Homo sapiens: one gene and its partner. The protein of the gene in region 1 interacts with the protein of each later gene in a pairwise test. Each region holds a gene or a part of one and is shown on either strand. Other genes may lie near its edges.

Region 1 (3,687 bases):
GGGAAAGCAGATTCTAGCCCCCTCAGCTGGGGAGGTTTCCCAGTGTCCTAAACCTTGGCCTCCTGCTTCTCTTTAGTGGCCCTGCTCCTGCTTAACACAGTAGTGCTTGTCACATGTTAGTCGCTGCCATGGATTTCTCAGGTTTTCAACATCATAACTACACTCCAATTCTCTGCACCCCTTTGGCAGGTGAGGCCAATAGAAAAATAACAGCACAGTTGAGTTTAAAAATGTAGTTTGTAGCAGGTGGACAGGTAAAGAGCTGGGTTAAATGACACCTCCACCTATCCTAGCTGTATGAGAATAAAAAAACTCCGAATCCTTCCTGAGAGGATTGAGCTGGCTAACCCTATGAAGTACATGGTGTCTAATGCCTGCCCCCAAGGTTTAATACAATATTTAAGACTTGCCTTTTGAAGTTCCCCACTGTCAACCTCCCCAGTTCTCCACCCATCTTCCCATGTGAGCTCTGCCTTAGCCACGCAATGGCCAGTCCTCCCTACAATGAGTCCATTTCCTTTATTCTCAATTTAAATTCAAAGTGGGGAAAAAGTGCACTTAAGAATGAATCATCCATTTTATTTTATTTTGTCATGTGCTCAACAGCATCTCTCTCTCTCTCCCCTCTCCCTGGCAGGTCACAGAGATAAATTAAAAATAAAATCTACAAGGAAAATAATTTATAAAAGCACTCCCAGGTTCACACCTTCTATCCCTACTGCTCAGTTAGGCACCCCCTAACTGGGAATCAGTGCTTCCCCCCACCCCCATTTCACTCCCACTTGTCTGGGGCAGACGGTACTCCAGAGCCGGGCAGGGGTGAGGGCAGCAGTGGCAAACAGTTAAAAATAAAGACATTGTAGTCCTGGAACCATCTGGCCACCTTGGCACTCCCATGTCTGCCTCCCCCAGGCAGCCCTCCAGGAGCCTGTGCGAAGCTGGGGCTGTGGAGAAGCTGCCTGTGGCTGAGAGCTTGTGTGTTTGGGGAGGTGCTCTCAGCCTGTCATATGCACTTCTCAATCTTCTAGAAAGAAACCCAAAAAAGAAAGCAGACGACGACCTCGGGACAGAGGAGAAAAATCCCAAGTGTTCACACAGTTACACGGAGTCTTTATGGCAAAGAGAACATTTAGCAGCTTTGAATATTGGGCATCTCCTTTTTACTCAACACAAGCATTCTAGACCCTATAAGTGAAACAGGGCACAAGCCCTAAAAAAATCAAAGCGCAAGAAATTCTAAGAGGACTAGTTCTTTTGTTGTTGCTGGGTTGTGTAATTTTTTGTGTTTTCCCAGTGATAAGCCCAGTTGTTGGTAGGCAGAGGCCCGAGGGAAGGGTGACTCCCCAGTGTTGTGCTGAATCCTGCCTGGAGGCTGCTACACTAGATTCTCCATCATTCCTCTGCCTCACAGCAGTCCCAGAAGAGGAAGGCTGCAGGCCCAGTTCCCGGAGCACTGCCATCACCCTACCCCAGCTTACAGAAGAGCTCAGGCAGTCTGTGAGGGGTGGGGAACACAAACACCGGACCAGGGGAGGACGGCATACACATGCAGGCTCTGATGGAGACAATGGGAGCCTCAGCTCAGGGGTGGCTGGAGCACGGAGGGAGATGGAGTGGCAAGGCAGTGAATGACATGCGTGATGTTGGGGCTGTTGCAACATGGGACCACGTGACCCTTTCCTGTTCACTCTACCCTTTGACTCTAAATCTCAAAGCCAGTGTTGGGGCCCAGTGGCTCCATTCGATTGAAACATGGCCAATGATATCCAAGAGCTCCCCTTCAGGGATGTCAAAATGCAAGGAGCAGAAAGAGTTAACACCGTCCCTCCCCACCCCCACCCTGTGTCTGTGTACCCCACCCCCCCCGGGGTGAAAATTGGGGTTTATCACACCAGTGATCTAGGCCCACCAGTCACTCCAACCTGCTGCCTGGAATCCTGGCCAGAGCCAACCTTAACCTTCCCTCTGATTTTCTTCCCGCTTTGATTTTTTTTTCGGGGGGGGGGGGGTTCCTTCCTTCCTTCCTTCTATCCCTCCTTCCTGAAATGAGACTTTCTGCCACCTTCCCTTCCTCTCACAGGTCCATTCCTTCCCCTCTGTCGGCCTTTGCTCCACATAGCTCCTCTACCTCCAGCAACTCCACCACCACCCCTGCCTCACAGGAAAGGGGTAGGGTGAGGACCCTGTCCGTCTAAATGGTCTGGCCACTTCCACTCCACCCGAGTGGAGCTGAGCCAGCCAGTGCCTGCCTCTTCCTGTACACTGACCCGCAGTCATCCCATCTGAGAAGATATATTGGATAAGAAGGCATTTAAGTCCCCGCTGTAGGTCCAGGTCCAGGTCCAGGTCCAGCCCTTCTCCAGTTTCGGTCTTGGTGGGCTTCAAACCCCCTTCTTCCCCAGGCTCACTTTCTCCGGTCCTTTGGCTTCCTCTCCTGCCGCCGGGCCTGCTGGTCGGCCATCGTGCGGGGGATGAGGAGGACACTGCCGTCCCCGGCGTACTGGAGCGCATACTGACTGGGCGAGTAGGGTCGTCCGTTCTCATCTCGCAGCCGCCCAAACACCTCCTGGTACAGGCTCTGGACCTTCTGCTTCATCTGTCGCAGGGAGCGCAGGAACTCCACTTTCTCCCGCAGCAGCCGGGCTTTGTCACGCTGCAGGTCCTCCACATCACGCTCCAGATTCAGGATGGTGTCCAGCTTGCGCTTGCGGCAGTTCTGCGCCGCCATCTTGTTCTTGCCCCGGCGCCGGATGTCTCGGATGAGGCTCAGCTGGGCTTCACTCAACTGGTATTTGGACAGCAGTTCATTGAACTCCTCCACAGGCAGGTTGATGATTTTGTCATTGGTGAAAGGGATCTTCATGGCTCGGGCTCGGTGCTCATCCCGGCTCATCTGCTTGTCCAGGAAGTCAGCCTGCTTCTCCTTGCTGCCTTTCTTGAGGGCACTGGGTGGTGGCAGGTCGGCTGAGTCCAGGGCACTGGGTGCCATGTTGTATGTGTGGTTGTGGCCCACGTGCTCCAGGTAGGGCAGGCATGAGAGCTGAGCTGGATCCTGGTAGCTCATGCGGCAGAACTTGGAATACTCAGGCTGGTAGCCCACAGCACCCTCGGCCTCTTCCAGATCCAGGGTCTCAGAGTCAGAGCTGTAGCCAACCGCACCTTCCTCAGAAAAGGAGGAAGAGGCAGAGGAAGAAGCAGAGGAAGAAGAGGAAGAGGAGGAGGAAGAAGAGGAAGAACTGCCTTCAGAGCTGCTTAGGGAAGAAGGGCTATGGCTCGAGTCTAAGGAAAGGCCTGAGTCAGAGTCAAATTCCTCCTCCAGCTGGGAGGCCTGCACAGGGTTAAAGCCTTCTTCAATGGCCAGGTCCATAAGGCTGATCTCATCCAACATAGCTTCATCTAACAGACCCCCCAAAGGGTCAGGCAGCTCTGGGCCTGCTGTGTCATTGGCTGTGCCATTGAGCTGGGGTGGAAAGAAGAGCCCTGTCAGGTTGGTGGAGCCGAAGGTGGAGTTGAGGCTGGTAGAATTGCTGGGGGCCAACGGGAGCAGCGTGGAGCTACTGGCCACAGGCAGGCTTTCCACCTCGGGGCTGAAGAGTAAGAAGTCCTGGCTGCAGCCCCCCAGGGACGCCTGATGCAGGCTGACATTCTGATTGATGGGAGTGTTGGGGGCAAGGCTGTAGTTGGTGC
Region 2 (3,500 bases), on another chromosome or scaffold:
ACACACACACACACACGCTCAAAAATAGAGACCTGGATAGAATCTGGGGACTGGAAGAGTCATCCAAGGTTAAAGCAGAGTTTGGGGTAACCTGGGGACTCCCTCTATGGGAATAAGATGCCCAGTGATGATTCAGACAGTTAGTTAAGAAGCATTTTAGGGAGCACTGGTTAAGTACTAGGTAGTATGCTAGGCACCAAAGATACCACACAACGGCTACCCTCATGGCATCTGCAGAAAAAACAGAAAAGAAAGGATGCTGCCTAGGGCCTGTGCAGGAGGAGGTCTCCTTGTGCTGGTGCTCTGGTCCTCAGGCAAAGCCCTCATTGGATTTCCTACTGATTTCAGGCTGCACAACCTATTGAAAACCTAACAGAATGTGTTTACACATACTTTTTAAAAGTATTTTATTTTTGAAATGATTGTAGGGCTTTCCTCAAATGTTGTTCTTTGTTCCATGACAGTGAGTGGAGATTTTAGATGCTTACAAATGTTTACATGAGGATTTCATCTCTTCTCCTGGACTCATGGCTGGAACATAATTATGAACTGTGCTTGTTAACCAAATAGAGATATTCCATGAGACAAGAAGGCTGATTCCTAATATGGAGGTGTCCTTGGGCCGGGGCCCACTTATCCTGGTATCCATCTCCTCCTCCCGACACAGAGGTGCCTTCATTAGTAGAGGAAAGAAAGAGGTCTTTGTGATGATGTAATTCCCAGACCACCCTACACAGACAATAAAACTGAATTTGAGAGAAGCTGGGTGAAATAAGAGCTCAGAAATCATAGAATACCAGTGCAGCAGGGACCTAAGAGGTTATTTAGTCTAATCTTTTAATGTTAGAAATGGGCAAATAACACCAAAAGGGGAAGAGATCTGTCTAAGATTACATGGCCAGTTAATGGTGGGCTATTTTCATCAAGGTAAATATGGGGAAATTCATTCCACAGAAATTCTAATAACTGTGTGTTTGATGATATTATGGTAGGCAAGAGGGCTGTCACCATAGTGTGTGACAAGCAGCTGCAATGCAACATGACCAGTGCTAGCACAGAGTATAGACAAGGCACTGTGGGATCACAGAGGAGGAAGCATCTCACTCTTCCTGTGGGCACTGTGGAAGGCTTCATGCAGAAGAGGACTTCTGAGTTGGGTCTTTATGAATGAACAGAAGTTGGTTGTATAGGAAACGGAAAAGGTATTTCCAGAATATGGAACAGCATGTAAAGGCATAAACATGTGAAAGAAAATGACATGTTTGGGGGATTAAGAGTGGTTTCCTATGGTAAAAATGGAGATTTATTGGAAGGGAAATAGAGGAGACAGCAAAAAGGTAAGGGAAGGAGTAGCTGTGAAGGCCTTGGATGGCATGTTAAGAAGTTTGTCCTGGAGAGAAGTTATCTTTGTGCTTTAAAAAACAATGTAGTGGCAAAAGGATGAAGAATGGGCTGAACAAAAATGGACCCATGATAGGAAGCCTAGCTGGGTGGATAACACAGTATTTCAGGTGGAAAATAAGAGTAAAAATTTTGAAAATGAACGAACAATCCAGAGCACTTGTGAAGGCTGAATTAAAGCAGTGATATTTAGATATTTAGTGATGGTAGACTCAGCAGGATTTCATAAAAGATGATTAGACATGGGGAATAAAATGGAGGATGGGGCAGCAAACTACTGCCCTTGGGTCATGTGCAGGCTGCCATCTATTTTGTACAGCCCAAGTGCTAAGAATGGTTTTTACATTCTCATGTACACGTACATGCTTCCTTCAATAGCTGAGAAGAAACAAAAGAAGCATCTTTTGTAACACATGAAAATAATGGGAAATTCAAATTTCAGTGACCATAACTAAAATTATATGGGAACATAGCCACACTTGTTAATTGACCTATTGTCTCTGGCAGCAAAGGCAGAGCTGAATAGTGCAAACCAGGTCATAGGTCTCATAAAGCCTTAGATAGTTACTATTTGGCCCTTTCAGAAAAAGTTGCTGACCTCCTCCAGGATTCTCCAACTCAGTTAAAATCAGTTCATCTTTTTAGTTGCCCAGACCAAAACCTTTGGGGTCATCTTAATTCTACTCTTAGCTGCCAACCGATCTTTCATCAAGATCTGCTGTATTTTAAAAATATATCCAGAATTTGACCCTCACTCCTTCCCTTGCTACCACTCTGTTCCTCAGCACTACCATCTCTCAGCTGGGTCATTCTGGTAGCCTTTATTTATTTATTATTTATTGAGACAGGGTCTTGCTCTGTCACACAGACTGGAGTGCAGTGGTGTGATCATGGCTCACTGCAGTCCCAAACTCCTGGGCTAAAGCGTTCCTTCCATGTCAGCCTCCTGAGTAGCTGGGGCTACAGGTGTGCACCACCACCCATGGCTAATTTTTTTGTAGAGATGGGGTTTCGCCATGTTGCCCAGGCTGGTCTTGAACTCCTGAGCTCAAGCAAACCACCCACTTCGCCTCCCAAAGTGCTGGGATTACAGGCGTGAGCCACCATGCCCAGCCTCATTCTAGAAACCTTTTGCCTCATCTCCCTGCTTCATCTCTGCCTGCTTCAGTCACTTAACACCATCTGAGTGATGGTGTTTTAGCACCATCAGTTAAAACAGAAGTGAGATCACGCCATTCCTCTGCACAAAGTCTTCCCGAGCCTTCCCATCTAACTCTGAGTAAAGGCCCAAGTTTTACAATGGCTTCCAGGGCCCTACAAAACCTGCCTCTGCCCTTCCTCTTGTTACACCCGGGACCAACCCCCGTTCCACAATCATGCTCACTCTCTTCTCCAGTCACATCAACCTCCTTCTTGGTCCTCAATAATGTACCAGGTCCACACCTGCCCCAAGGTCTTTGCATCTGTCATTCCTTCCACCTGTAATGTTATTTTCCAAGATATACATATGGTTCTCTTCCTCACTTCCTTCAGATTGGGACTCAAATCTACCCTTCTTAGTGAGGCCTTCTCTAGCCATCCTACTTAATACTGACAACCATCCTCAGACCACAACCCTCTATTTCTCTTTTTCTTGCTTTATTCTGCTCTCTAGCACTTACTACCACTCAAACAAAATACAAACATTACCAATTTATCTTGTTTATTACCTGTCTCCCCTGTTAGAATGTAAGCTCCAGGAAGGCAAGAGTTTTTGTTTTGTTTTCCTTTCTAGAACCTAGTACAGTGCATGGTACGTGTTAGGCACTCAATAAATAGTTGCTGAAAGAATGGAAATAATGGATCAGAAAGTGACTGGGAGATAAGAAAAGACAAGCAGGTAGAGATAACTCTTTCAAGGCATCTGGTGAGTAGCTAAAGAGGAAACCAGTATCAGGAGACTTTCTCCAAATAGGAAAGACTCAAGCATATTTACAGAACGTCAGGGCGACAGAGTGGCAAAAAAAGATGGGATATGAGAAATAGCATATCTGGCTATGCCAAGTCTGGGAGGAAGCTGAAAGAAATGGCCTTATGAGCAAGGAGAGAAGGGACCTCCT

The links. Proteins that work in one complex are often made in the same cells at the same time.
Region 2: the proteins of NFE2L1 (region 1) and PARVA interact in a two-hybrid assay, tested with the Homo sapiens proteins (one large-scale study listed by BioGRID and IntAct).

The regions. Positions count from the first base shown.
Region 1 is NC_000017.11:48,058,359-48,062,045, reverse strand, and holds the end of NFE2L1 (endoplasmic reticulum membrane sensor NFE2L1), read right to left. Parts: coding exon 2,405-3,687; 3' UTR 501-2,404; downstream 1-500.
Region 2 is NC_000011.10:12,384,071-12,387,570, reverse strand, and holds part of PARVA (alpha-parvin), read right to left. Parts: intron 1-3,500. UniProt on the Homo sapiens protein: Plays a role in sarcomere organization and in smooth muscle cell contraction. Required for normal development of the embryonic cardiovascular system, and for normal septation of the heart outflow tract.